5 separate regions of the Homo sapiens genome follow, and all the other regions are linked to region 1. Evidence: fine-mapped expression QTL. A gene starts in region 1. Each other region holds a variant in brackets. All regions are shown on one strand. Distances are between the middles of the regions. Region 1 holds the start of GRIN3A (glutamate ionotropic receptor NMDA type subunit 3A). Region 2 has its middle 330 kb from the start of LINC00587. Region 3 overlaps GRIN3A (glutamate ionotropic receptor NMDA type subunit 3A). Region 4 overlaps GRIN3A (glutamate ionotropic receptor NMDA type subunit 3A). Region 5 overlaps RNF20 (ring finger protein 20).

The links. PIP is the estimated chance that this variant, and not a neighbour inherited with it, causes the effect. A credible set is the group of variants that fine-mapping cannot tell apart.
Region 2: its variant is the best candidate, but not a certain one, in a credible set for the expression of GRIN3A in prostate (GTEx, PIP 0.59).
Region 3: its variant is the best candidate, but not a certain one, in a credible set for the expression of GRIN3A in monocytes after R848 (Quach 2016, PIP 0.85).
Region 4: its variant is the best candidate, but not a certain one, in a credible set for the expression of GRIN3A in T cells (TOPMed, PIP 0.63).
Region 5: its variant is the best candidate, but not a certain one, in a credible set for the expression of GRIN3A in spleen (GTEx, PIP 0.55).

The regions. Positions count from the first base shown.
Region 1 is chr9:101,736,228-101,742,559 of GRCh38, forward strand. It overlaps GRIN3A (glutamate ionotropic receptor NMDA type subunit 3A), which reads right to left and starts at 2,420. Exons shown (of 9, transcript NM_133445.3): 1 at 1,054-2,420. The coding sequence starts at 1,752. RefSeq lists a silencer at 540-834 and enhancers at 1,729-2,253, 2,254-2,777.
Region 2 is chr9:102,190,203-102,196,711 of GRCh38, forward strand. No RefSeq gene overlaps it. Among named protein-coding and RNA genes, the nearest start is that of LINC00587, 330 kb to the right of the region's middle. The variant C/T (reference allele first, on the strand shown) is at 3,438.
Region 3 is chr9:101,583,026-101,588,025 of GRCh38, forward strand. The region is part of intron 6 of GRIN3A (glutamate ionotropic receptor NMDA type subunit 3A); the gene reads right to left. Among named protein-coding and RNA genes, the nearest start is that of PPP3R2, 9.4 kb to the right of the region's middle. RefSeq lists an enhancer at 3,696-3,745. The variant G/A (reference allele first, on the strand shown) is at 2,843.
Region 4 is chr9:101,574,310-101,579,309 of GRCh38, forward strand. It overlaps GRIN3A (glutamate ionotropic receptor NMDA type subunit 3A), which reads right to left. Exons shown (of 9, transcript NM_133445.3): 7 at 4,887-5,000; 8 at 3,459-3,535. Among named protein-coding and RNA genes, the nearest start is that of PPP3R2, 18 kb to the right of the region's middle. The variant C/G (reference allele first, on the strand shown) is at 2,409.
Region 5 is chr9:101,560,422-101,566,930 of GRCh38, forward strand. It overlaps RNF20 (ring finger protein 20), which reads left to right. Exons shown (of 20, transcript NM_019592.7): 17 at 380-505; 18 at 669-809; 19 at 1,489-1,590; 20 at 1,825-2,923. The coding sequence ends at 2,001. Among named protein-coding and RNA genes, the nearest start is that of RNF20, 30 kb to the left of the region's middle. The variant C/T (reference allele first, on the strand shown) is at 3,696.

The DNA.
Region 1 (6,332 bases):
CTTTTCTCAGTTTCTCAGTCGTTAAAATGGGCCCATGCCAATTACCTATTTGCTTCATAGATACTTTGTGCAAGGCTTAACACAGCTTGAGATTATGATAAAAGTAACATATAAAAGGCAGAAAACTCATTACTAAATAAGGACTCTGTCTTGTTCTTAAAGATTCATCTCCTCATTATTACTTGTCAACGTTAAGTTCACAAATAGCTCTTTCATTGAAAATATGTTTAGCTTTTTTAATCAATAAGAAACTAAATCATTTAATTCCTTTTTTTTTTTAATTCTTAGATGATGGGGAGAGAAATGGGCTGAACACAGCAACTGAATACCAGCCTCTGAGTCCACATTACATAGAAGGAAAGTAGGGACAAAGAAACAATCCCCAAATAAATCTCCCCGTCCATCTTTACACTTTTATATATTTCTAATGCTTTCCAATATCCGAGACTAATTGACCACTCTTCTCTACCTATGGCTTCTGTACTAGGTGCAGATTTTCTATTTACCCAGAGGAATTCAGAGCGATGTGCTTTCTTCCTTACACCTTTGCCTAAGGCTCAGGCACACCTTCTGAAGAAGTCAGAGAGAGCAGATGCTGCTTTTCCGACACATGCTGTCAGAGTTGCTCTTGGGAGTGTGACACCTAGCCAGGAGTCAGGGATACCCCACCCCCATACCCTGCTCTTGTAGTTCTTCAGAACCTTCACCGCTCTCCACGGTCCTGAACCTCGACTTCTACTTCCCGTCGGGCATCTACTAGATTTCTCCCAGCCGGTCAAAATATGATTTTCTCTCATATTCTCCCCACTTCTTTCCTTCCAGCCGCGACCTCACTGCGCGTTTTATTTCCATCCGCGCTTTAAATATTTTATTCTACTTCTACTAAGCTCCTTCTACCTACCACCTACGAACATGGCCCAATCGTTAAGCAATATCAAAGTTATAAAGTAACAACTCCCCTCAGACTTTACCAAGCCGTTTTCTCTCCCCTCATGCAATGGCCCCGGCCCCCAGCAGCGCCCATCTCCACTCCACGCACCAGGCTCCTCTCACCTGACTCTCCCGTGGAAACTCGTGGCGCACGATGCTGATCACTGGAATGTGCAGGACTAAGCTGACCAAGTCGAGCTCCATCATTTCGCCCTGGCTCTGGGGGAAGGCGAGCAGCGCCGACACCCCTTGCACCACCACGGTATGGCACACACTTTGCAGGAAGGAGAAAGGGTCACTGCTCCATGGCGAACTAGGGGAGGAGAAGGGCAAAAGTGGCAGATCGCCCAGGCCTGCCTCGATGGCCATCACTACTTCCAAAGACAGGTTGTAGGGTAGCAGCCCTTCCACGCGGTTCAGGTTGTCCACGGCAAATAGGAGGGCGTCCCGTGGCCACAGGGCCTCCGCCCTGGCGCCCTCCCCGGGCTTACGGGAGCCCGGCGGCCCCCGGCCATGCAGGGTGCTCCCCAACCAGCGTGCGCCCGGCGAGGGCGCCGGGGACCGCCTAGTCCCTGGCTCCGGCTCATCCCTCTGGGCTCCTGCTCGGCTGTCGTCCGGAGCGCGGCTGGCCGCGCGGGGGGCGGTGGTCCAGGGCTGCAAGTGCACCGCGCCCACCCTCACCGCGTGCCCGATGCGCTTGAGGATCTGGCAGGGCTGCGGGTGCGAGGAGGAGCTGGGCACCCCGGCCAGCACCAGTGCGCAGGGCGGCGGCAACAGCAGACAGACCCTGCTCAGCAGCCACCACAAACTCAGTCTCCTCATTACTGAGACCCGCAGGGAGAAAGCGCGCCCCCTCCTGCGCCCGGCTCGCCCCTCTGCAGCCGCTGCCTGAGGTCTCCGCCTCCAGGTCCCGCGCGCAGCTTCACTCCACTCGGTGAAGCGGTCCCAGGAGCTGGAGCGGTCTCTAGGCCATGCAAGTTGGAGCGTAGCGCGCCTCCGGCAGTCTCAGATCCCGCTCCCAGGTCCCTCCGCCTGGCATCCTCTGCCCGCCCGGTCACTGCGCTGAGCAGGCAGGCGGGCGGGCCGGCGCCTGTCACCCGCAGCTGGAGCGCCCGTTCCCTGCCCGCCCCATCTGCAGGGCGCCTCGGGCACTGCGTCCGGCCCCGCGAGGCGGCCGGGATGAGAAGCAGCCGGAGTTCCTCGGGGGCAGCAGTGACAGAGGAGCGACGCGCTCTCGCCTGGATTCTTTTCCTTTTCTGCCCAGGCGAGACCCACTTATTTCCTGGGGTCGCGTTGGAGAGGGCTTTCACGCCCGGGGTGCGGAAAAGAAGCCAAATCCACCTTCCTCCACTGTTGGCCACCCTCCTGCAGGCTCCCCCAGCGCCGACTTCATTTTCTCTCTTCTCTCGCTACTTCCTCTCTGCCTTTCTTTCGTTATTTTTCCACCGAGTCGCCACCGCCGCTTGCTTCCTCGGAGGAGCAACGCGACTGGCCAGCAAAGGGTGGCTCTGCTCCGAGCGCCAAAGTTCTCCCCGCCTCAGCCGGCGCCTCCCTGTTGCTGAGCCCTGGCGCCTGCCTGTCGCTTGGCTGCGCTAAACGCCCACTGTTGGTGAGATTCCCGAGTGGCACATCCCGCGCCCCTGGAAAGTCCTCTCCCCTCAAAGGCTGGGCGTCATAGTTTGCAAAATTCCCTAAAACCTAAGAAGGAAAATAGGACTATGAGCCGGTGAGAATTCTGAATTCAGAGTCGCACCTGAGGGATCTGAAATTCGGTGGTTCACTGAAATAGGTTCAAAGAGGCTGTGACTTAACGAGCTTCTGGATGTGTCGCTTTTAAGGTTTTTCTAGCTAAGGGTATTAAAGTAAGAATTATTTACACATTTTTATCTCCTCAGCTTCTTTCTTTCTGGCATGTGAGCCTTTGCATTTTTTTTTTAAAGAATCCCTGTTTTTAGGTTCTCAGAATTAAAACAAAGTGAATTCAAAGCAATTTTTTCAGTTCAAGAAATTAAAGAGTTTCAAAATACTTTTAGAGTTTAAAATGCAGTCAACAGCAGTTCCCAGTTTAGATCAAGAGTCCCCAGATCACAGTTTGTACTAAGTTATTTCATTTGTATGGTAATACAGTGAAGTCAACGTGTTGTGATCTAATCTTTTCCTCCATGATTTGAATAATCTGAAACTAGAAGGTAAGGAAAGAGTTAAGGGCAGGCCTGTGGTTTGCACATATACAGTAGATTAATTTTATTTTATCCCACAGTATCGTTTAGAAGGAGGGTAGGAGAGATCCATGGGGTGGAGCAAGCACTGGGGATCAGCCTTTCTGAGTCTAATACTACTTCATGACCATGACCTTGGCAACTTATTTCACCCGACCTTGCCCTGCTGTTTGGATCTGCTAAATTGTTATGCAAATACAGCTGGCTTTTAGCTCTGGAGGGTTGTTTTGATTCATGAGCTAAAGTTTCCATCATGTTTTAAATCCTGGGAAGAAGAGACTCTAGTTAAGTAAAAATCCCAAGAAGCTTGCAAAGTGAATGCTGTTTTCCCCAGCCCAGATCTTTAAAGGTATCTCAGAACAAATTTACCAGACATTCGGCATCGTTTTTGCAAGACTGGGTTGCTAGAGAAGAAAAGTCTCCCATGAGAAAAAAAGTGAAAATCATAGTAGTGGGCTGAATGAGGAGGGAAAGAAACCCTCCTGAAGCCTGAGAGAACATCCCATGAATGGAGAAAAGCTGCCTCTAGTGTGCTGGAAATTCCCCCTTGATCCACAGGATTCCACTGATTGAGATCTGAATAATAAAAGTGTAGAAGTCTGAGGTCCTTGCATTGCAGGAAGATTGGGTATCTACTAATTGTGTAGTAAGGAGGTATATTTGTCTGTACTCGAGTGTGTGTTTTGAAGAATATAATGTATAACTTTCTAGGTTATGACCATGCTTAGTCCTTGTACTTTTAGTCCTTGGCATTACACTTATGTTCAGATCAGGTTCTCAAGAAAAACATGATGATGGAGAATAGTTTGATCTGATCATTAATAGCATCCTAGAATCACTCTATATGCATTAGGTTTTTCACAAGTTCATGACTGCCTTGAGGGAATAACTGAACTGCTCTTACACAGAAGACCTTCCCAAGTTTCTGAGGATAATACTGCACCAGGTCGTGATAAAACTCTACTTAAACCTGGTGAATACTGAGTGAACAATGAAGAATGGCTCTCCCTTCTTGGGCTTCCTTTTGTTTCTTTCCGGGCTTTCCCATTATAATTCACTGGTGTCCTTCCTGTTTTCCTTTTGCTGCTTGGTTTTCTTTGTCCATATCATGGTGGTCTGAGCATATCTGACAAAATTGTTCTCTCTCCTTTCCCCAAATCTTCTTTTTCCTTTTCCCTTTCTCCTTCTTGTCCACCTTTTTCATGTGTCAAGGGTCATCATTTTCAAAGTTCACTTAAATTCAACAACCAATTATTAAGCTCCTAGTATGTGTCAATCATTGTTGTAGGACCATCCTGGAAACAGATGAATAAACTCTAGAAAAGTTGAGTTTTCTCCTTTCCACAACATCACATAGTCAATAAGTGAACAAAATGCTAACATAGAGCTTATATTCTAGTGTGAAAGAGACAATAAAATATACAAATAAGTAAATAAATGTAGGGTATGTTAGTTTGTGCTAAGTGGAAAAAGAAAGCAGTGTAGAGGAAGTATTAGGAAGAGGTTGGGTTGTAATTTTAGGTGAGAAAGCCAGGGAAGACCTCTCGGAGAAGACAGCTTTTGAATAAAGATGTAAAGGGAGGTAAGGGAGTGATTCATGTGAATACTCTAGGCAAGAATTCCCAAGCAGGGGAAACTACATGCCAAGGCCCCGAGTGTTTCTGGAAGGTTTAAAGAATAATGAGGGGTCTGGAGTGGCCGGAGCAAAATGATCCAGGGTGAAAGTGGTGGCAGGTCAGGTCAGAGAGGCAATGAAGAGGTGGCAGACAATGTAAGCAAATGAACTTTGGCATCTACTCTGAATGAGATGAGAAGGCATGAAGGCAGGGACATTGGGCAGAAGAGTGATAGAATTAATACTTTAACGGGATCGCTACAGTTGTTTTGTTACTGATAGATGAACAGTGGTTAAGAGTGGAGGGCAGAAGAGTGATAGAATTAATACTTTAACGGGATCGCTACAGTTGTTTTGTTACTGATAGATGAACAGTGGTTAAGAGTGGACGCCAGAAGATGAGAAAAGGAGATGAGGCTATTGCAATAAGCCACATGAAAAATAACACTACTGTCAAATCATAGAAATCAACCTCAATAGGTTTGTGTGATCATCCCCATTCTAAAGAAAAGGACATTGAATTTGAGAAAAGTTGAGTTATCTGCACAAAATCATTAGATAGTGAGTAGCATTGTGGCTTCAATATTTTAAGTTCTTCCCAGCTGTGTGGTTGGTAGCTAAAATCAGTCAAATTTCAAAATTGGCTTACTCAGAGATGAAGCTTTTTAAAAATTATTATCTGACTCAGAATGAGAACTACTGATCTAAGAACCCATGTTGGAGAGTCAAACCAGAACAAATCCAAATGCTCGCAATTTAACATGTGCTTTTGTTCACATCTGTGTTTTCTGGTACCAGCAATGGATGGACTAAAAGCTGAGATATATTGCTATGGTGGTAGCCAAGGAAAGGCTACAGTAAAGGATGCTGTGGGAATTAGGAGTTAGATTCTCTTTTCAGTATTGTTTCGCCTATGGATATGACATTTAACCTCTTACAGCTGAAGATTCCTCCTCTGAACTGTGGTTGTGGCGACAGATCTTAACAGTTGTCTGTATAGATGCAACAGTATGCAGCCTCCTGTGAATCTTTTCAAGTTCCACGGGAATGGGAGGCTTCTGGTGAGTCTGGAAAACTATCTTGTGTTTTTTCCTATACCTTGACTTATTACAAGTTGCATTCACATCTATCTTTGTTTTTGTAAATGGCCATAATATTAAATGGCATGTCCCCAATTCTGGGTCTCCCCCTTTTTTTTTTTTTGCAATAGTAATTATGTAGATTTTTATCAATATTCAGATGAAAAATGTGTTCTCCCCTAGCTAGTGCATATCCAGAGTCTCAAATTATGCTGTCTTCCACATTGGCTCCTTTGTTTCTATTGCCAAGGACCTTGTTGTCATGTGAATCTTCCTGGATAAAAGCAAACAAACAAAAAATATATGGAGCTCTTAGAGAATCTATGGTAGCAGAATTTTAGAAGGGAATGAATCTAGAAAAAAATTAGGTCAGTTTAGGGGAGCAGACCCTGAGGGCTCATCTGTCCAAAGCCTAATAATTTTTTCTCATTCCCTCAATTAAAAATAAGCCTATATTCACTCAATACTTTGTAACACTGTTCTACATTC
Region 2 (6,509 bases), 450 kb after region 1:
TCCTTCTCAACTCTATCACCTTGGTGGTTTTGTTAAAAATCAATTGACAATATTTATACTAAGTTTTCAAATGAAACAGTGTAAGTCCTCCAACTTTGTTCTCCTTTAGTTTGTGTTGGCTATTCTTATTCTTTTATCTTTCCATATAAACTTTTGAATTAGTTTGTTAATATTTACAAAATTGCTTCCTATGATTTTGATTTACTTGGATTGAATCTATAGATCTACATTTTTCTTGCTTAAGAATAAGAGTGACAGTTTCCAAACCCTACATTTTGAAGCTGAAATCGAAAGTCAGTATCCTTTGATTAAAGATGATGTGTTATTGGTGTCTACTAGTGAGGGAATAGGACGAGTATGGTATTCCTTTGTCATGATGGATAGTATTTCAATAATTTGTTTTCAAGTAAGATTCAAAATTAGAATATATTTTGTATGAGCATGATATACATGGCTGTCTTAGTGAAAATAGTAATTATTCCCTCAATTTTTCTGTCACAGAACAACTCCCCTCCTTGACAAATTTCAGAGTTACATTTGATATCAGATACCCTCATCCAAATGAGTTTTCTTTGATTTCATCTGATTTACTAGTATTTAAAAGTTACTGACAAAGTTGTCAAAAGCCAAAATTGTAATGTTCCTTTGTTATGTCAATGATTTGGTGATGTAAGTTAGTAGAAAATCAGAGATGGCCAAAACAACCTCCAGCTGTTAAAGGATCCCAGCATAAGTTATCAGAGTAAATGCCACATTCCCCCACAGGTTTGTCTGATGTAATGATATATTCAGTGTTAATTAACAATAGAGAACCCATTTGGGAAAATATAGGCAAGGTTGCATAGGAGTGACACAACAGTTAAGAACCAAAAATTACAAATCTGGAAATCCTAATGCCCAATGAAATCTTAGCTAGACAGTCGTTAAAATTATGTAGATATTTTTAAATGTTAACAGCAGTTAGCACAAATAGCATTTTTATTACATGCAGAATTAAATTGTATTATCTTAAATGCTTGAACTGGAAAATATGTATATTTAGTTACTTGGTCAGAAAATTGGAAGAAATTTAGTTATATCCAATATCTTCTCATCATGCATAAAACCAAGACCTAAGCAATCATACGATTCTGGGAAACATTTACTATTTCAAAAGGATTCTCACTGTTATAAATAATTAAGTAGGTGTCATAACTGCTTTTAAATAACACACACACACACACACACACACACACAAATTCTGAAACTGTGTCTAAGTTACAAAGGCCTGGGCTAACAGTAACCACAAAAATGTTTAATAGCATGTTGTATAAAGTCATGGTAGATAATTTACTTATGGGCAATGGAGCAAGATATTCTTAAAGATAGTTCTCAACATATGACAGCATTCCAGCAAGAAAGTCCATAAACCATATCTCCTCTACATTTTTCCCACATAGAAGGGAGACATAACTTTCTCCAATAAGGTGCAATAAGAATATTTGCAGAATAGACATCTTTAACTGTCCCAAACTGCCTAAAGCCTAATATTTGCATGGATATGTGATTATAAAATATTAGCAAAGCAAAGGACAAGGGCAAATAAATATTGATGATGAAATTTACACAAACTCTGAGTAAATTGCACAGATAAATGAACTATCTAAACTAAAATTAGTCTTCAATTAGTGTAGCAGTCCTAAATGGAAATGGTGATTATATTCATGAGTATTAACACACAACACAGACCAGACTGTTAGCACAATACCGACCAGAGTATTAGCTCACAATACAGACCAGAGTGGATTATGGTAATGGATCAGAGGATGATATGGAAGCAGCAACAGGCCAGAAAGAATGACGAAAAAATATTTTTTCTCTAGAATATTATGAATAAATTAGAAGTTAATATTAGTTTAAAAGTTATGTATGTGAATTCTAGTTTTTCATGTGTGGTTATGAAGGCAGTTCAATGTGGACAAATTGCTCATATTTGATTTCTGTTCCTAATACTTAACAATGGTATAATATTGGAGAAAGATTCATTTTCCTCATCATCTTAGATAATAAATTTAGCAGTACCTCAAAACCATAGGATCATTATGAGGATTAGATAATATAATAAATGCAATGTGCTTAAAAGAGTGTCTTGCATTTAATAATTTCTCAATAAATGTTAGTTTCTTCATTATATGTTATATAAACAGCATATAAAATGCTATGTAAAATACATATGTGTATTATAAATTATGTATATAATAGACCAGTAAAATTTTGAATATTATAGAAATATGTTAAGCACATGTATAAACTAAGTTTTGTATATTTTTATTTAATATTTTTGTTAAAATATTTGAGAGTGGGGCATTTTATAAAGTTGATTCTATACAGTAAATTAAATTATTTTCAATTTATATTTTTATCCTTCTATCCATAAAATCAAAAAGAAAAAACATTCTATATGAAGTAACCTGACATTAGAGTATCACATTAAGGAGAAAAATCTTTATTATTTTTTGAATGAGCAATCTTCAGTAGGCCTCATATTAGTGAATGTAAAATGCTCTTGATTGGCATATGAACGTTAACCTACCTTTTGTGAAAGAATATTTATAAATTCCATTAAGGGCATCTTTTATAGTCAAATGACTAAATTTTTCTTGTAATTCAATTATACTTGCAATCTAGAGTCACCATATAATTACATACTTTCTATTTTATGTTTTATTAATTAGATTTCTTGAAAATGAGGAATACAACATCACATCTGTAAATGACTTGTCATGTTACAATCCCTTACCTGAACTTAGCAGACTACACACTCACAGACACACATACACAAATGCAGCACACACACACACACACACACACATACACATCTACATACTGTTTCAAACTTTGAAGTAGAAATAGCTTGATTCCAGCAATATGGAGTATAATTAAATGACCACATAATTTATCATCTAAAGCAGAACATCTTGGAAGTGAAAGGTGGCTCTATTTATAATTACTCAGGAATGACAGATGTTAAAGAGATTGTCATAGGCAAACCAAAATGCATAGTGACCCTAACTGGAATATGGGAAAGAGAGCATATACAGTGTTCATCAGCTTGCAAGATAGTAAACACTCTTGAATTGATTTGAATCCAGGTGCTAACTTTTTATAGCTGGATAAGTTAATTTATAATCTCCTTAGTTATGAGTTTTCTCATCTCAACAGATGGATTAATATTACCTTTCATAGAATTGCTATGATAATCTGATGTGAAAATGTATAAAGGAATAGTTCTGTTATGTAAACACAAGATAGGTTAACCGCTGTGTTACTACCTCAGTAGTTTTAATGATAAAACTATTTGTTTTCTGGTGATAAACAACACACATTAGTGTGTTTGTTCTGTTGATAAATATGGTGAATTAAAAATAATTGCATTTAGGATGTGCTTTGAAATGAAA[C/T]GAGTTAGATCATATATATTTGTGAGCCTTCTGCTTTCGTTCTTACCTATATTGATCTCTACATACACTTTCTTCTTAGTTTGTAATTTTCCTGAATATAGGGACCATGTCAGTAATTTACTTTAAAAGATTTAGAGTTTCTCTAAATATTTCTTATATTTTGGAACAAAAATAGTTCTACCTAACTTTAAGTTCCATTTCTGTAATAAATTAGGTAACTCTTGAAGCTGCTTTAAAACTTTAACATGTAGTATTTTCCTGTGTTCTAATGTAAAATATAATCCATAAATACAAAAAAAATTGGGGATTTTTTTTTTCAGATTCCATGTAACTTTTAATCTGTTCTGGATATATCACTCAATACTGAAATGCATAAAGCGTGTTCCAAAATATGCACAAACTTTTATACACAGAACACAAAACTGTACACTTAATATGGTTAAATGCTAAATTTTATGTTATATCTTTTACCACAATGAAAATTTTTGAAAAAATGAAATACCAGCTAATGCATACTCTTTGGATAGTTAACAAAATTTGTGAAGATACAGGCCTCTCAAACATTATATTCGTAATCTTCAATGTGTCAGCAAAAACGAATCCATTTATTAATGAAATGCAATGAGGCTTAGTAATTTTAAATATATTACTGTATGCATACAAAGATTTTGCATATAGTAGAATCTCGAATATAAGTGTCTACCACAAAAGCCTAGAGTTATAAGGGATTGCCCTACAAATAATCTTCCTCCAATTACAGATATCCTTTTAAATGACATTTGCAGCAAAAAAACACCATCCCCGTTGTACACTCTCATTCACAAAGAATTTATTATTTTACAAAAAATCTCACTCTGTGGCTAAACAACGTGTAAGAAAATTCAGTGTTGCCATGACAGTAACTTGTACTTATTAGTTCAGCTTCTAGATTTTCCACCCTAATAGGTAAGTCTAATCTCTTCTTTGATATTTCTTCGAATCTGTGGAAAGAGCTACTAAATCCTCCGTTTAGTTGTTACCTTGTTTTGTTTCATTTTAGGATGAAAGGAACTTATCCCACTTCTTTTAATTATCCTGGTAATCAAAAATTTTATTCACAGAAGTGATTATGGTAGATGTAGTCTAATTTATGCAAATTACAGTGGGTTTGCTATACCATTTTTTCTGTATATTATATGCCAATTAATACATCCTGAAGGTAATGCTACTTTGTACAGTTAGTTTTAGACTGCAACTGCATTTATTTAAAAGTGTGTGTAAGTATATTTGTATTTGATGTAAAGTGTGTTTGTGGAGTGTGTGTTCCAAAGACTGGGATTCGGCATACTTATTTACCAAAATTGTACTGCTTGTTTTTGGAAAATAAATGTTTTACTCATTACTTTGTCAGTCTGCCCTGTCCGCATTCATTATACCACTTGTGCTCATGTTCCATTATAGTTAAATTATCAAGCAAAACTCTCAGAGACAAAATACATGGTGATCAGGACATATATAACAACATGAGAAGCTTTTTAGCATCAGTAGCACAAAAAATACACAAATAACCAAAATGCTCATAAAACTCTCAAGTTGAAAACACTGAAAATGATAAAGGAAGGGCTGATTTTTTGTTGCATAGAAGTATGAGGCAACGAGAAAGGGAGATGGGAGTACATATTGAAGAGAAGGCATTGATATAAGAGTAGTCTTAGTCCAGAAGTCATACTTGCTACTTGATTGTCATATTTGTATTTTATTTAAACACACATATATTATGTTAATTAATAGACTAAATTATGTTATACTTTGATATCTATAAAATAAAATATTTGATACATCAAAATCAGATTTCATAATAGAAACATCTCAGTCACTAAAAGGACACATTATTCGAAAGAATGTAAAGAGATCTGTGACTTTGGCTGTCTTTTAACTTCTCTTGGCTGTTTCCTCACTTTAAATTGGGCAATACAAACTAATCTTCAACTTACCTTCAAATGAGAATAATCTATGATTGAATAATCTATAAGTGATCTTAAAGAGGAGTTACAAATTCTACCAAACGCCAAGTTGTATAAAGTTCTGAGGCTATTACCATTCTGCCAAATTTTCTGAAAATGCAGCCTCTTTAGTTCAGAGAACATTTGTATGGGAATCTCTCTTCAAATGGAACTCTTTAGACTAAGGTCTGTGATTCATATTTATATCTCCTTCCTTAAATCTTCTCATTCACAAATTCACGTGTAACTCTGATACCCCACAGAAATAATCAGTATCCATATCTCACTCTATTCCCACATCCCATCCCAAATGAAAAGCAAATTCTACAGTTACCTTATAACTACTGTTGCTGCCAGAGTTCTGAGAACAGTTCCAACTTCTATCTAAACCACTGTACTGCATGACCAAGAGATGGCAGAGGTCTCTTCTGCAAATTTCCAATCTAACCCAAGTAGGTTTGTTAGAGATATTCATTATCAAGTTTAAAATGTTGTCCTCTCTTCCTAGTTTACTGAGCAGCTTTGTCACAAGTTGGTTTTGGATTTTGCCAAATGCTTTTTCTTCATATATTAGTAAGATATTAAAATTTTTCTATTTTAGCTTGTTAATGTGATAGGTTAATTGTTCTTTTCTTCAATCAACAAATATTTATTAATATTTTTAAAAATTTTATGTTAACTGACATAATAGATACAGTTATTAGATGCAATATGATGTTTTGGTATATATTTACAATGTAGAGTGATTAAGTAAGACTAAAAGAGATAAACTAAAACATATAAAAATATGGAGAGATGCATCTCTATTCTGGGAGTGGCTGGGTCTTTCCTCATTCCTTAGATACCTGGGAATACTCCCACTTCTTTGGGAGATGAAACCCAACATAACACTATAGTTGATTTTTCACATAAGGCCCATATCAGTGTTATGGAAAAAAATACTTGATGTTTTGTTTTCATTTCATTTCGTTTTCATTCATTGTTTTATTTATGTAAACTTTTTATTTTAGAACAATATGATTTTTACAAAATTATTGCAAACTAGTACAAAATTTTACCATTCTTTCCTATTATTAACTTTTTACTTAGT
Region 3 (5,000 bases), 150 kb before region 1:
ATGCCAGATACAATATACCTGTATTATGATCTTATAATTACCCTGTAAGTTAAGTGTTATTATCCTTATTTCACATTTGAGAAAGCAGAGGTTTATAGGGGTTAATAACCTTACTTACCCAAGATCATGCAAGCTACTAAGTCGGGATCCAGGCTGCGGATCCAGGACTGTCTGATGCCAAAGCCTGCAATGCTTCTCAAACAATCGCCATTTATAGGTATCCTTTTCTAGTTGAATCTTCACTATTCGCTATAACAACTATCACAATTTTTTATTTAAAACTCACATTGGAATGGAAAATCCACTATCATCTGCCTGTGAACACCAGAGAAAATGTTTCAATTGTGTCTGAGTCTGAGTGACAAGACATACAGCTGCCTTTGTAATTCAGCGGTTCCTCCCCTAGGATCACATTGTTTAAATGTGCTGTGCATATGTGCATCTTCCCCATATTATCAAGTGAAAACTTTCTTTCTAGTAAAAAACTGCTCAACTTGATACTCATTATTGGTCAGAGGAAGAAAAGAAGGAGTTATGAATATTCAATATCAAATATTTAAAATACACTCAGGTGATGCAGACAAAATGATAATTGCAGCTGCAAGTGACTTGAGTGGTAGCACATTCAGAAATGCAAGCAGAAGTCCAGTCTCATGCTGTCAAGGGCCATGTAAATGAATGCAAAAAGAATGCAAACAAACATATGTTTTGAGGTTGTTGTTTTTTCCCCCTTTATCCCATTGCTTCAGCTGCAGCTTCATTTGCTAGCTCATAGCCACACACTTCCAGAGACTCAAGGGCCAGGGAGAGAAGGCTGTCACAGGATTGATTGATTTGATTGGATTTTTTGAGACAGAGTCTCACTCTGAGGCTCATACTAGAGTGCAATGGCACAGTCTTGACTCACTGCAACCTCTGCCTCCCGGGTTCAAGCAATTCTCATGCCTCAGCCTCCCAAGTAGCTGGGATTACAGGCATGTGTTACCACACCCAGCTAATTTTTGTATTTTTAGTAGAGACAGGGTTTCACCATATTAGCCAGGCTTGAACTCTCCACCTTAGGTAATCTGCCCGCCTCAGCCTCCCAAATTGTTGGGAATGCAGGTGTGAGCCACTGCACCCGGCTAGTCCCAGGATTGAGCCAGGGACAAATCTCAGGCATTTATTGCTCCAGTTGGTCCTTCACAAACTTACTCTAGCCCACCCCATCTCACTTAGGCAACTCTTTAACTAGTAAGTAATCATTCAAAAAATTGCCTTGCTCATGTATTTCATTTTTCTAAAGGTTATTTATATTCATTATGTTTCTTTAGCATTTTATTGTTAATTTACATTAGTATATATTTACTACACTGTGAAGAAAAAACATAGTTTGTATCTGATACTGTACTCTGCATGTTGCATGGAGGAATACCAACAAATTATGCACTATACAACTAATGTTTTAAATGCTTTATGTTATGCAGAAATTCTTGGTAGATTGTCACATATCCATGCATTGTGCATTAGATATTAAATGTCTACAGGTGTCTAAGAGTGTTTTAGCGAATTTAGGGAAACTGCTTGAGATTTTTGGATGAAATAGGAATACTTTATTATTTTTTCCATTTGAAATAATGGAAAGGGCTTCCACCATCTATAAATTTACTAGCCAACACATTTCTAGGAATGGACCAAATTCAGATAAAAGGAGATGTTTGTACTATCACAGGTGTGGTCTCTGACCAGATCAGTAACATGTATAGGATAAGATTATAAACTTTGTTGTTGCCCAAACCCTGCTTTGTATTTTGTTCAGATGTCGTCACTTGAAACATCTGACAGCTGGCTCGAGTAGTGACTAGTTCTCAAGTCTCCAGCAAGAAATGCAGATAAAGTGTTTCACTCATCATTTGTTTTTGATGTTACTAATCAAGATCTATGCAGCTAATCCTTCCTTGTGCCCATTCCACACCTCCCAGCACATAGCAACCACCTGATTTCTCTGGTTTTCTAGAGTGTTGTCTATACTCATTGCTTCTAATTCCTTTTCTCCCATTCTCCCTTAGACCCTCTTCAATCAGACTTTTGTCCCCTCCCATCACCTGTCAAACAATTCCTGTAAAAGTAAAAAATGGCCTCCATATTGCCAAATCTAACGGTCAGTTTTCACCTTATTCATGTATCGGCAGCTTGGACGCCATTGATTACTCCATCTTCTTTGGTATAGTTTCTTAACTTTGTTTTTGTGATACTTCTTTCTCTTTGTTGTACCTTAGTCTCTTTTGCTTTTCTTCTTCATCTTTCTGACTGTAAACATAGGCATGCTTTCAGTTTTTCAGCTACACTCATGTTCTCATTCAGAGTCAGCTTTAAATACCACCCAGATGTCAATGACTCCCAAGAGTTGGGGGCTTTTCTGTCCTAACTTCCTACTCTGCCTCTTTACTTAGGTAATGAACGGACATTTCAAAGATAACACATTAAAAGCAAACTCCTAATTTTCCCTCTGAAACCTGCTGCTTACACAGTCTTTCTCATCACAATGAACCTCCATCCTTGCCATGACACAGGGAAAAAAACCTTAGAACCACCTTTGATTCCTGTCTTTCTCTAGCATCCCATTACCCTGTGTATCTGCAAATATGGTGGAACCGACCTTCAAAGTATATCCAGAATTCAACATCCCACCACCTCCACCAACCACCCTGATCCAAGCCACCATCCCCTCTCACCTCACCTAGATTATTGAGACAGCCTCCTAGTTGTTTTCCCTAACCCCTTCTGTCTTCTTCACAGCAGTGAGAATGACTGTCATGTCACTCCTGTGCTCAATGCCTGGTCATGGTTTTCTGTCTCTTGC[G/A]GAGTAAATTCAGAGTCCTTGCAATGGGCTATGAGGCCTCACAAGATCTATTTCCTCATATCCTTCTTCTCTCTCGCTGGTTGACTTTGCTCAGCCATTTGGGCTTCCTTATTGTTCCTTAAATCTATTGAGCAACTTGCCACTTGAGGGTATTTTCATTTTCTGTTCGTGCCTGTAAACTCTTCTGCCAGGAATCAATATTGCTCCTTCCCTCACTTTCTTTAGGTTTCTTCTCAAATGTCACCTATCCATGAAGTTTACCCTAATCACTGTGCTTAAAAAGGCAAATTCTTTTCCCCCTTCCATCCTCTTTCAGATACAATCTATCTCTCTTACTTTGCTTTATTTCTCTCTTGACATAGTATGTGTTTATTTGTTTATTGCCTATTTCCCCAGCAAAGTAGAATGTAAGCTACAGGAGGGCAGCACTTTTGTCCATTTTGCTCGATACATACTCTTGTTTAGAACAGTGCCCAGCACGGTGAATATTTTTTAAATGAATGAATGAAAGCATATGAAAACTAGGATTTTTTGTATAAAATAAATTTGCATAATTTCCCCCACCCCCGATCCCAAACAGTCTCATTATATCACAGAAGCTTCCTAGAACAGTTGTTTAAGAGAGAAGGGTGGAGATGGACATTCTCAATTAAAAGGAGAGGAAACAAGGCCCAGTTTTGCTAGCCTGACCTGATCATGCTAATATTCACCAATCTAGGGATCTACTGTTGAAACTGGGACAAAAAATTTTTTAAATTACTGAAGTAAAACACTGGAAACTGAATGCAAAAATTTCAGGAGGAATGTATTGATTTTGTTTTCTTAGGATCCTTTCTTTGGGGAACTGCCCTCTTCCTGCTTCATGTGGTTTTGGTGTATCTACCAATCACAGACTCCCTGCTCCCTGTTCACCAGGCAAAGCATGAGACTCAAGGCCAGTCAATGTGAATCTGAAACAGAAACACTGGATATCAAAGGTGTTTGGAGATGAGTCATTTCCAATGTCAGTGCCCCAAAGACATAGTCCCCTAGTTCCTGCACTAGCATCCTTGGAGTGCTGTGGTTCGAGGCTTCATCTGTCACTCTCTTTCTTACTTCAAAACATTGAGCTTTCCCGTTATTCTTTTGATAGGTTTTGCTTAAGTTTAAAAATCTGTTGCAGCCGGGCGCAGTGGCTCACGCCTGTAATCCTAACACTTTGGGAGGCCGAGACAAGTGGATCATCTGAGGTCAGGAGTTCGAGACCAGCCTGATCAACATGGTGAAACCCTGTCTCTACTAAAAATACAAAAATTAGTCAGGCATGGTGGCAGGTGCCTGTAGTTCCAGCTACTCGGGAGGCTGAGGCAGGAGAATTGCTTGAATCCGGGAGGCAGAGGCTGCAGTGAGCTGAAATTGCACCACTGCAATCCAGCCTGGGCAACAGAGCGAGACTCCATCTCAAAAAAAAAAAAAAAAAATCTGTTGCTTGCAACCAAATAATCTGATTCAATATATGTACTGTTTAAAGGATTAAGGTCCTCTAGCTCCGAGGTGTGAATATAACTTCTTTTGAGATAGACTGTATCCTGACGCAGATCTCAGAAATGAACGGGTGGAGCCTGTTTTAGGAAGTCTTCTCTGACAGGGTAAGGCTGTGTTGCTTTTGCCTGTCTCCAGCAGCCTAGTATATAGTAAGTTCAATAAAAAATAAAAAGCACATGTCTGAAAAGTAACTTAATTACATTTACTCTGACATTCCCTATTAAATATTTTTCCCCAGAGCAAAATGACTGCAAGAACCTGGGAAAATAATTGTATTTTTCAGTGACCTAATGCACTAAGCTTTGTATCATCTCCTCTCTGGATCTGCACAGCCAAATGCGATGTTCAAGAATTTTTTTCCTTAATAAGAGAGCTGGTGGCAGGGGGAGAAATAATGATTTTAATGAGAGGTAAGGAAAAGAAAAAGGCTGTGGTGCTTCTGAAATATGGATGACTCATAGATGCTTGGAAGCAGGACAAGGAAGAAGCAAATGCTATTTCTAATTTTGAAGACCTGGTATCTATTTTATTTATTTATTTATTTATTTATTGCCTCCTGATTATTTTGCCCAGAAGAATAGTTAGTTGCTCAAAAGAACTTGGCAGATTCATTGCTGTGTCTATACATATGGCC
Region 4 (5,000 bases), 160 kb before region 1:
TACTTATGAGATAAGGAGAGTTTCTCACTACAAGAATAGATTAGAGCCCTAAGCAGCATAGCTGCTGATTTTTTCCACCATAGGAGAAGAAGCAGGAGGAGGAGTAGGAGGGTTATGACAACTTTTGCAATCTACCACAGGACAAAACTAAATAGAAACACCCTACCAAGCCATTGTGTTTTTGTTCCCATTCATGTAACTGAATTGACTTTTTTCCTGGACTCTTACTTGCCAGGAGAAGGGGACAATCTGGAAGGAGAAGGGGAAAGAGAAGAATAATAAAGTCTTTATGTAAAAGTGGCCATAAACCTTCTTTTCTCCTTTCATTTATGCCCTCTGTAATGTGACTTTGCAGCTTGTACCTATGCTGAATCTGCTTTCCTCCCCGCTTCAGTTAGGAGTGTTCTCACAACTTGTTTTGGGCAACAGAAAGTGGCAGACATATCAGAGTGGCAGTTCCAAGCCTAAACTTTTAAGAAGTCTTGCACATTTCCACTCTCTTGGAACCCTGCTGCTGCAATGTGAACAAGTCCAGAATGGCCTGCTGCATGATGGTAGACCATATGGAGAGAATCCTCAGGCTTCCCAGTTGACTAGCTGAGGCCATCATAGACCAGACAGCCCTTAGCTGCTTTCCCCATCCCCCAAAGTTGGCTACAGACATATGAGCAAACCCAGCCAAATTCAGCCAAGTCTGGCTCAGATCAGCAAACTGCACAGTTGATCCATGAATTAGTAAGCAACTTGCTGTTGTTTAAAACATTAAGTATTGGGATGATTTATCACATAGCAAAGACCAACTTATACATGACCCAAGCCATTGAAACACACACTCCAAACCACCCTGTGGTTCTTTAACATGCCTCATAGTCTAAGTTTTATATAAATGAGCAGAGGGTACCAGAGCTCAGTTTTCTTGTATCCTGGGCTGGGTAAAAGTTCTGTAATGAACCCACTTATAGCTCCATTGGCTTTAGACCTGAGTCAGAGAGGAGATGTAATTTTTCTTCTAGCTTTATAATTCCCTTTAATTTTTTTCTTCAAATCTTTTCCTATTGAATTTGAATAATCTTAAAGTAATCTTGGTTGTGCTGTTATGTAGTTTGTAATTTTTGTGTGTCTTGGGGTGAGAGGAAAGGGAAAACAGGGGTGACATGTATTGATTGGGAACCCAGTGAGATGAAAGATAGACCAAAACCTTATGTGAAATCACATGTTGAATAAACCCAGGGCTATATATAAATCATCTCCTGCAATATGTACCTTATTTTCTTTGCATTAAATGAGAAAGGGACAATACCTACTTCCATATCATGGCCCAAAATTTCTCCAAGCATTTCCTCAAACCCATGTTAATAATTCATTCATTTATCTATTTGCTCTTTTATTTGTTCAGTAAATATGGGGCACAGAGGAGGGATGTCAAGTTGTAGCATGCATGAGCATTTGCATAGATATACTTCCAAGAGAAGAGAGGGAGAGCATTCTAATGCCCTACAATGGTTCATAGCAGGGAAAACCTGAGAGTAGAGCATCTACACATTTTCTTCAACTGTCTAGACAGCCACAGTGATAAGGTAAGTAAAGATAGCTGGACTGGTCTTCTCCAGAGCTTTGTATATCTATCTGGTAATATAATATAGAAGAATAAACAAATGCTGGACTTTGTGCCAAATTCTAGTTGCTAGTATCACCAGGCATCTGATATTTGATGTGGGTACCTATGAGTGCAAGGTGACAAATGCTGAGTGTAAGACTCAGTGTCTACTTGGAAAAAATAACCCAAGGCTGGTGTTATACTCCTAGCCTCAGTAACATTTAGGCTTTGCTTTGATTCAAGCCTTCGTCAGTCTTAGAGTGTTACATGACCAGTGAGTGAGCTGTATTTAACACTAAAAATGGGTAAAATAGGCTTCCCTGGAGCAATTATGTAACACTGAGGTTCAATACTCCACTGGACTATTCCAAAGAGACATGACGGCTATGGTACGCCAAACACTCATTGTGTTTGACAGGTTGCTAATGTTGGGTTGTATAGAGGTAGGCACAGGAAATGTGAGCCCAAGCTAAACCATGAACACCTGTTCTCCTTAGATCCTCAAAATAAGGGGTTCAGGAAGGGAATCTGCCAAGAAAACTGGGTAAGTTGCATCAAAAGACACAAATGGTTTTCAATTTATGTGAGAAAGATGTGAATATGAATCATATCACAGTTGGAGATGGGATCATTGGGCTTCCTGTTTCTATTATAGCTGGAAAACAAATATTTTTTCATTGTAAGATGATACATTTGCTGCTATGTCTTCTTGTGTTACTGTTATTAAAAATTTATGTTAAAAATAGAAAAAATAGATGTAACATGTCATGGAACAGCTGTGACTGGACTAGTATACAGCTTGTCACTAACA[C/G]ACTTGCAATATGATGCAGGAATACCACAGACTGAGAGGGGAGGGGAGAGTGCTCATTGACTGGAAAGAGATACTTCAAGAGATAAAGGAAATGATTCCAACAAGCTAGATGGAGACTGCATAGAAGGGGACTGCAGCAGTCCCAGAAAAGATACAAACAAAAAGAATCCTGTTTTCCATCCCTTTTTCTTCTGTTATGATGAGAGGTGTGCCCTCATCTGAGGCCTCTGGGTGTACAAAAGAATCAGTAGGGTTGCCTTAGGCAGCAGGCAGCAGAGACTAGCCAGGAACCAGACCCAAGTGCTTCTGACATCTTTAGTCACCATGAAATAGGGAACAGTCATCCACAGCCTGGTGTGGTGAGAGTGAAGAGCTTCGATTTTCAGATGTCATTAATGCATTTAATGTTTGTTATTTCCTATTAATAAGATGCTCTTTGCTAGGGAGTTTGTAGAAAAGTGCCAGGAAATGAATTAGGCATGACATGTCTGTTTCATATTTCCAATACTCTGTTCCTAGGAATGCTAGAAAGGAGTAGGGAGTGGAAATATGCCAAAAAGACAGTAAAACATGGAATTAATTGCCTGCGGTATTCATTAATTCTTACATGTATTTTGTACATAATAATAGCTAATATTTATTAGGCATTTCCTTTCATTCAGAGATGTACATGTATGATCTTATTTAATCTTTACAACAACTCTAGGAAATAGGTACTGTTTTTATCTCTACTTTACAAATGAGGAACTTGAGGTGCAGAGAGATTAAATAAGTGACTTACACAAAGTAACACATATCATAAGTCTTGGAGACAGGATTTGGATCCAGAGGGTTGATCCTAGAGTCCATGACTACACTTCTAACCATGACAGTATATTGTGTACACTGCATTTTAGTGTCCATATACATTTTTTATTTTATGTTTTATTTCCCTCTATTTATACTGATTCTTTTGATAAATTGCCCTGATTTGATCTGAATAATTATACAGTTAGATCTCTAAAGATTATTTTACAAATATAAAGACAGTTGCCATTGGCCCCTTCTTACCTCTTTTCCACACGTTTGGTCTTGAAATGCTGCTGCTTTTCCTCTATAAATGATGTATTTATTGCTCTGTGTAATCTCTGATGGAGAAAACAGATTCACAGGTAGAAATTATGAGAAACACATAGGTCAGGGAACAAAGAACCACTTGAGATGTAACAGTATATGTAGTCGTTACAAACCTTGGCCTCTTTAAACAAATTCCAGAAATGCCTAAAAATAGATCAACATTCAGCCTCAAATCTCAACAGAACAAAAATTCTAATTAGAGGTTATTATTCCACCTGGAGAAACAAAAAAGTGTTCTGATGGAAAGCTCAGTATTATAAAACGGTATGTGATATAAGGAGGCACAATCATAACTAATGTGTAGCAAAAGGCCTTCCATAATTGCTAAAGATGAGTAAAAAGTATATAATTAATTGACAACCAAAACAAAGAAGGGAAGGAGGACTCTTGAGAATTAAGTTAATCATATTAGCATACAATAAGGAAGATCTGTGGAGTTCTCCTAGAAGACCAAATACTTCCCAGGATAAAAGTAGGAAGAACAGGGTTCAACTGTAACCAAACCAATGATAGTAACCTATCTAGAAAAAAAAAAAGTGTTACCAAAGTGAGGAGTTTAGTATGAGGGTATATGAATACATGAATAGGGTAAATGCAGAAGTGACAGCCTCCCTGCTGGGAGGTAATCCATGGTACACTGGAGGGCAGGAGGTGGTCTCACCACAGGAGAGGCCAGGATGGCTCATCCAGCCTTGCTGTGGTCAAGTGAAACCACTCCCTTTGTTAGAGTTCTTCCATCATTATGAAGCCTTCTGACTATATTTTGGGTCTCCATGCCAATTTCATTCAGGGAGAGATATGCAAACGAGTGTGCTTGAGTCACCAGTCTGCTTGACAGTTTCAGTTCTCCCTGTAAATCAGTGCGTTGATGTCTAGGTAACAGGAGAGAACTGCGGCCTTGTGAAGCTTGGCCTTGGCCCCAATGGGTCTCAAACCCCTCTGGACCAGGGAAAAAGCAGAGAGAACAGGGGCAAGTGGGGTCACTTAAAGGGGACCAGGGACTTTAAACTCACGTAATAGGTTTCAATTTTGGCAAGAAAAGAACCTAGGAAATAAATCTTTCACACCATCTTTTCAGACTGTCACTATTAAGTGAAACCTGGTTAAAAAAGTTCTATTTCTTCTATTATGAACAACAGTGGAGGGTTATAGGAAAGGAAGGAGCACTGTGGGATGCCTTAATTTAAGGGAAAAGTGAATTAATGGGATAGAGAGAATTCCTTCTGCTCTAATGAGAGTGCCTACCCCACCCTCGTTATTGTGGTAACATAACTTAGTAGTCTGACATAGGGCTCTGGATCCTCCCATCCCTAGGAATTGTACAGTTTAAGAATATTGGAGCAAGACACCTGTGGCACTCACCTGGCTGGTGTGGAGCCAGTATTGCAGCTTGGATTTGTTTTTGATTCGTGGTAGCAGCAGCCTGTATACTATGTGCTCACCAATGGTGGTCAAAATGGACAGACCAAATCCAAT
Region 5 (6,509 bases), 180 kb before region 1:
TTCAAAAAAGACTCTTTTAGAATGTCTAGCCATTCTGAAGGAAATACTCTTGGACTTTTGTTTGAGTTCTAATTTATATGTTATAGTATGAATTGCCAGGTTTTAAGCATTAGCATGCATTCTCTATTTTTGGCAATTTGGAAAAGAATCTTTTCAGTCATTTTTCAGACTCTTACTGAATCTTCCACAATATTTTATATTAAAAGTAAAGCTTTCAGTTATCATAGTCTTGATGTATTTTGAAGGGTTCATGGGCAAAATCAGTAATAGTTTGAGATTTCTAACATACTGTATTTTGTGGGCTTATAGATTAACAGAATAGTTTTTTTTCTTTTTTTAATCTTTTCATTTGTGTTAAAATCTGATTTTCTGTTCAAAGGTTGATGCCCAGCTACAGGTAGTAAGGAAACTGGAAGAGAAGGAGCATCTGTTACAGAGCAACATTGGCACAGGGGAGAAAGAGCTGGGTCTTAGGACCCAAGCCTTAGAGATGAATAAACGCAAGGTATGATTGATTAATCTAATGATGGTTAGTCTCAGTGGAACAAATAAGTATAACACTGTTGAGATTGTAAGTTCGCTTTATTCCTTCAACTTGGGCTAACATTTTGCCTCACTGGCAATAATAGGTGATACAATGGTGTCACTTATTTGTACATCCTACATAGGCAATGGAGGCAGCCCAGCTTGCAGATGACCTCAAAGCACAACTGGAGTTGGCTCAGAAGAAGCTACATGATTTTCAGGATGAGATCGTGGAGAACAGTGTTACCAAAGAAAAGGACATGTTCAATTTCAAACGAGCCCAGGTAAAAGCAGTTGTCTTTTCTTGTCACCTTTTAGGTGTTTTCTGAGGTCGGAAGTGACCCATATCATGAAAGAATCATTAGTCCAATGTATGTCATTTCCTACTAGACTTGAGGAAGTTTGTTGAGGGAAGAGAGTAAGTCTGTTTTCTTCACTGCCATATCCTCAGACTCTTTTATGGTGCCTTGCACCTAGTAGGCACAAAATAAATATTTGTTAAATTAATGAATTAGTAAATTGTTAAAGAAGTAACAGCATAGCAGCAGTAGAGGATTTTCAAGTTCTTGTATAATGTCTCTATTTTTGTCATGCTAGCTGTTTCTCATGATGTCTTTCTGTCTTTATCCGTAAGTCTCTGAATTATTTTAAACCGTTCTACCTTCAGCTTAAAACTAATTACTATAAAACAAAATAGACTGTCCTCTAAACTCTTAGATGTGTTTTCACAGGACTGAATTGGTAATAGATGCAATTCTAATTTGGGGATATAATTATGGTTGCCTCTTCTGAAACAAAAGAAAATATCCTGCCATTTGCAGTTCTCTACATTTCTACAAGATAATTGACCATAAAAGGATAGAAAGTCCCCTCTTTTCACAACAGAAAACTCAAGTCTATTATTTTTCTCAAAAATGATAGATTTGGGTAAGTGTGTCTAATGGGTATGCTATCCTGCCACAGGAGGACATCTCTAGACTTCGCAGGAAGCTGGAGACCACAAAGAAACCAGACAATGTACCCAAGTGTGATGAGATTCTGATGGAAGAGATTAAGGATTACAAGGTTAGAAAAAATGCCTTAGTGATTAGTTTTTTGTCAAAGCTTTAAGTGGCCTAATAGACTGGGAGAATAATTTGCATGATAGTAACCAGAGAATGGTTTATTTTGGAGGTTGGGGGGAAATGATGCTCTTTTTTTAGTGCCTTGTGGGTTTTCTTCTTGGTTGTGTAGTATATGAGAGCCATTTGGATCATAAACTTTCATGGTTGTTCAAACTCTGACATCTTTTCTTTTTAGGCACGCTTGACCTGTCCGTGCTGTAACATGCGTAAAAAGGATGCTGTTCTTACTAAGTGTTTTCATGTCTTCTGCTTTGAGTGTGTGAAGACACGCTATGACACCCGCCAGCGCAAATGTCCCAAGTGTAATGCTGCTTTTGGTGCCAATGATTTTCATCGCATCTACATTGGTTGATCTAAGTCAAGAGAAGAAGAGGAGCTGGCTAGTCAGGAACTTATTCATTAACCACCAAACCTCTACCTCTTCTCTCCTTGACTGTCACCTGTAGGACAGTTTATCAGTCAACTACCTTTCCTCCAGACTTTACTTCCAGGCTCTCCTCTTCAGTAGCTGGATGACTTTAGCAGAAAGGACTGGTAAATACAAGCCTTGGGTTTCAGAATGAATTAGAAACAAATAACTCTTACTGTCTTCCCTCCCAGCTTTGTTTATTTTGTGCTTTTAGACTTTTCAGTGTTTTCTTTTTCCAGCCCACTGTATAAACTTGGATTGTCCATTCCTCCTGAAGAAATCAAGTTGGTATTTTTGATGTGGAAAAGGGAACAAAAGTGGAAACATGGCTACTTTTGGGGAGTGATATTTTAAAAAATAAGTTGTCTATGGGCACAAAGTTTTCTTCATTTGTGTAGCAAACTTCTTGTGAATGTGGATTACAAAATGGTATAATTGTGCTACTCTCCCCTGGGTGGTTTGCAGCCCTAATGAAATTATGTCTAGGATGATTCAGTCTATTTCCCATTTACTAGCAGAGTAACTTGTTAAGATCAGCTGGCTTTCTTGTTAAAGTTATTTAAGTTTTGAATGCTCTACTACTTCAAGTCTTTAAATTTCTTGAGACTAGAATAATTTTAAATAATATGACCCTTTGTCTTCTAATGAAATAAAGATTGAAGAGGTTGAGTCAGGACTGAGCTGGTGAAGAAATCTTGTGGGTATTCTGGAAATTTGATACGGAGAGAACTTGGTGAGCTATGAATTACTCTCAGTCTCCTTTTTACAGGGTTGTTGTGATCCCTCTTTTCCAGAAAATTCTGTGGAATGTTTCTGTAGGACTTTGTTCTCCACAAGCTTGAATTAAAGCAGGATTCAGTTTGCATTTGTGTTTATGGTTTTTCTTTGAAACTTTTGTCTTTATTATTACAAGTTGATTTTATATCTGCTGTTATAGAATTAAATTTTCTTGCATGGAAATAATCAGCTTAGGTTAAGAGGTTGGCCTTGTTTAGAGTATTTAGATCTTTGCTTAATTGAAGCACTTTTCTCCCAATTCTTTTATTGAGTCTATTCTATGGAGAAATTATACCTAAAAGATTAATTTATTTGACTACTCAGTTATCTTTCATAGTTCATTAGGTGGGGTAAGAGACTATAATTTGTTTTTTGGGGGAGCATATTGCTGCCTCTAGCTTTAGGGTGAGAGTTCTTGCATTATGTGGTGGGTTTTTTTTTTTTTTTTTTGAGATGGAGTTTTGCTCTTGTCGCCCAGGCTGGAGTGCAGTGGCACAATCTTGGCTTACTGCCACCTCCGCCTCCTGGGTCCAAGCAATTCTCCTGCCTCAGCCTCCCGAATAGCTGGGATTACAGGTGCTCACCACCATGTCCAGCTAATTTTTGTATTTTTAGCAGAGATGGGGTTTTACCATGTTGGCCAGGCTGGTCTCAAACTCCTGACTTCAGGTGATCCACCTTCCTTGGCCTCCCAAAGTGTTTTGATTACAGGTGTGAGCCACCATGCCCAGCTGCATTATGTTTTATAATAACCAGCAAACCAGAGGTTTCATAAATCTCTGGCAAGGGGTTGTGTAAAATGGATCCTTCTTGATCACCACCTGTCCTAGAAGACAGGTAAGAGCAAATTCTGTGTCTTT[C/T]TGTGGTCACCAGCTATAATCAGCAGGATTTGCACTGAATTCCACAAAGTCATGTGGTATGAATTAAGCAATGAGTCTAATTGAAGAATCTTACTAGGTCATCAAGAGAGGTCATGGGTCCCTTGATCCCCCTGCTCAGCAAACACCCCCACCCCCACAGAACCATCATGACAGGATTAGCTCCTGCTTCTGGACACAGTGAGTTTTCATTTAGTAATAGGACACTTTCCCCTTGCTTCTTGCTCTTCTTATAGGGTAAGCTTGAGCATAACTTTGTTGGTTGGGTGCAGATATACTGCTTGGTCAACAGGTGGTTTGGGCTTGGCTGTTGGCTGTTTGTGACAATTGGCTGAGAAAGCCAGCTGCCCAGCACCAGGGGACCATAGGGCCTGTGGAATGTTGTGGAGGAAACCACTAGCCCCATGGGAAGTTGGATTTAGAGGAAGTTCCTCTAGTTGAGATGAGCAGGGAGCCCCTGATCCCAACTGGCTTGAGGTCCTGGCAACACAAGTTGAGCTCTCACAGTCATTTTCAGATAACAACCAAAAATGATGGTGATTTTTTGGCAGTTGGCTTCTCTCACTACAGAAGAGGTCAATGAATGCGCTTTAGGAATACTCCCAAACTGCATACCAAATTTTATTTGTATTGTATGTACATTATTCATAGCTTTTTTGGATCCTAGTTAGCAATCACAGCCCTTGATCCATATGAACTTTAAAGGGTAATTTCTTTAAGGTAATGCTTATAAATGCCAATTTCAAAGATTATTATAGAAGTCCTAGAGGCTTCTCATTTCTTAAAAACACTTCAGGCTGGGTGCAGTGGCTCACGCCTATAATCCCAGCAGTTTGGGAGGCTGAGACAGGAGGATTGCTTGAGCCCAGGAGTTTGAGACCAGCCCAGGCAACATAGGGAGACCCCGTCTCTACAAAAAATTTCGAAAATTAGCTGGCTGTGGTGGTGCACACCTGTAGTCCCAGCTACTTGGGAGACTGCAGCGGGAGGATAGCTTGAGCACCGGAGGTTAAGGCTGCTGTGAGCTGTGATTATGCCATGGACTCCAGCCTGGGTGACACAGTGAGACCCTGTCTCAAAAACAAACAACAACCATTTCAGATTTTGTAGGGATGGTCTCTCTCTCTCTTTTTTCTTTCTTTCATTGTTACCTTGGAAATTTCTTAGTGACTTTGACCAAAGTCAGGTGTGCTCTGAGGCATGCATAACTACATGGCTTGGATCTTACCTTCTTACTTACTATAGGGATCTTTTTCAAAGGTATTGAGCTGTTTCTGCAATTGTTTTCTTACATGAATTTCCATTGCAATTCCTTTTCCTTTTTCTCTGTCCAGATCCGTAGGCTTCCTTGTTCTTCAAGGGCCGGAATTTGATGCACATAGTTTAATGTACATGCCACTAGAGTGATGACTGTGATTTGATTTTGTGAAGATTCTAGACAATAAATAATCATCAGTCTTCTAAACCTACTAGGATGGTGATGCTTACACTTGCCGGAAGCATATGCTACTCTCATCTTTATTCCCATTGTCATTTGCTAGGATGTGGAATGCCGTTACATATTGTTCTTTGAAGATTTATCTGAGGACTGCCAGATAAACCCATGTCCCAGTGGATCTGCAGAAAAGTTTTGATTAGTCATTATTGCAGAAGTCTGCTTTTCTGATGTTAAGACAGATACACTGAGATTAGTAGAAAAATGGTGGATTATGTGTAGGTTGGATTGGGTTTGCACAATAGGAAACCCATGACATAGAAATACTTACAAATTTTCTAGATCTTAAAGTTTGGAAATACTTAAAAGTGGTCCTATCAGAAAGAATGAGCTTTACCTTCTGGGATTCCTGCCCATGTTTGGTCTGTTCCAAATGTTAGCTATTAAGGTCTTACTTATAGCCTACTTCACAATTACTAAAGGACATGAAAAGGACAATGTCTTAACAGTCTAATCCCTAATATCTAGCAGAGGCACATAGTAGTCAGTAAAGTTTTTCATGATTAAATTAATTCTGCTTCATGGTTCTGCTGCCAGATCTTCCGAAGTCTGCTTTACTGGGCCAATGTGTGATTCAAACCTTATTACTCTTTCTTTTTTTCACCCCCTAAGTAGAAACAATCTTTCCCCATATATCGAAGTAACCCTTCAAATTTGTATTATCCAAAAATATATGACTACAGTTTTAATTTATTTTGTGGCAATAAAAGGAATTATTATGAATTCTAAAACTAACACTTCTGTAGTGGCAGCTCATGAGACTGCTGAGTCTCATGTAGCTGAGACTTCACTTACTGCAAGGCACACATGATAACCACTACGCTACGGAAACCTGCATAAAAGCTTCATTTATTGTAAGTTAACCTTTTTTTTTTTTGAGGGAAGCTATGTTCACATTAATATAATAATAATATGCTCTGAGGATATTAGAGCTGAAAGGGAACTCAGACCATGTCCTTATTTTAGAAGTGAGGAAATAGGTTCCAGGGCCACTCAGGTTAGCCACAGGATTGAAATGCTACTATGAGAACTCCATTGTTCTTTTATCCCAATCGGAGACCTGTACTAATAGAGTACATGTCATCAGGTAGACAATAAGTGAAAATACTTTCTGAGTCATTTTGAAGTCTTCTAAAGACTTACATATACCTACTATACTTATCCTTGATCATTCTAATCTAACTAGACTCTTTGCCAGGCCCTGGATTAGAACTACATTTTGTTTCTGAATTCACTGAGTTCCTTTAGCACCTTGTTGTAGAGTAGAATTGAATCAAGGGATCTTAGATTTCTTCCTGCTC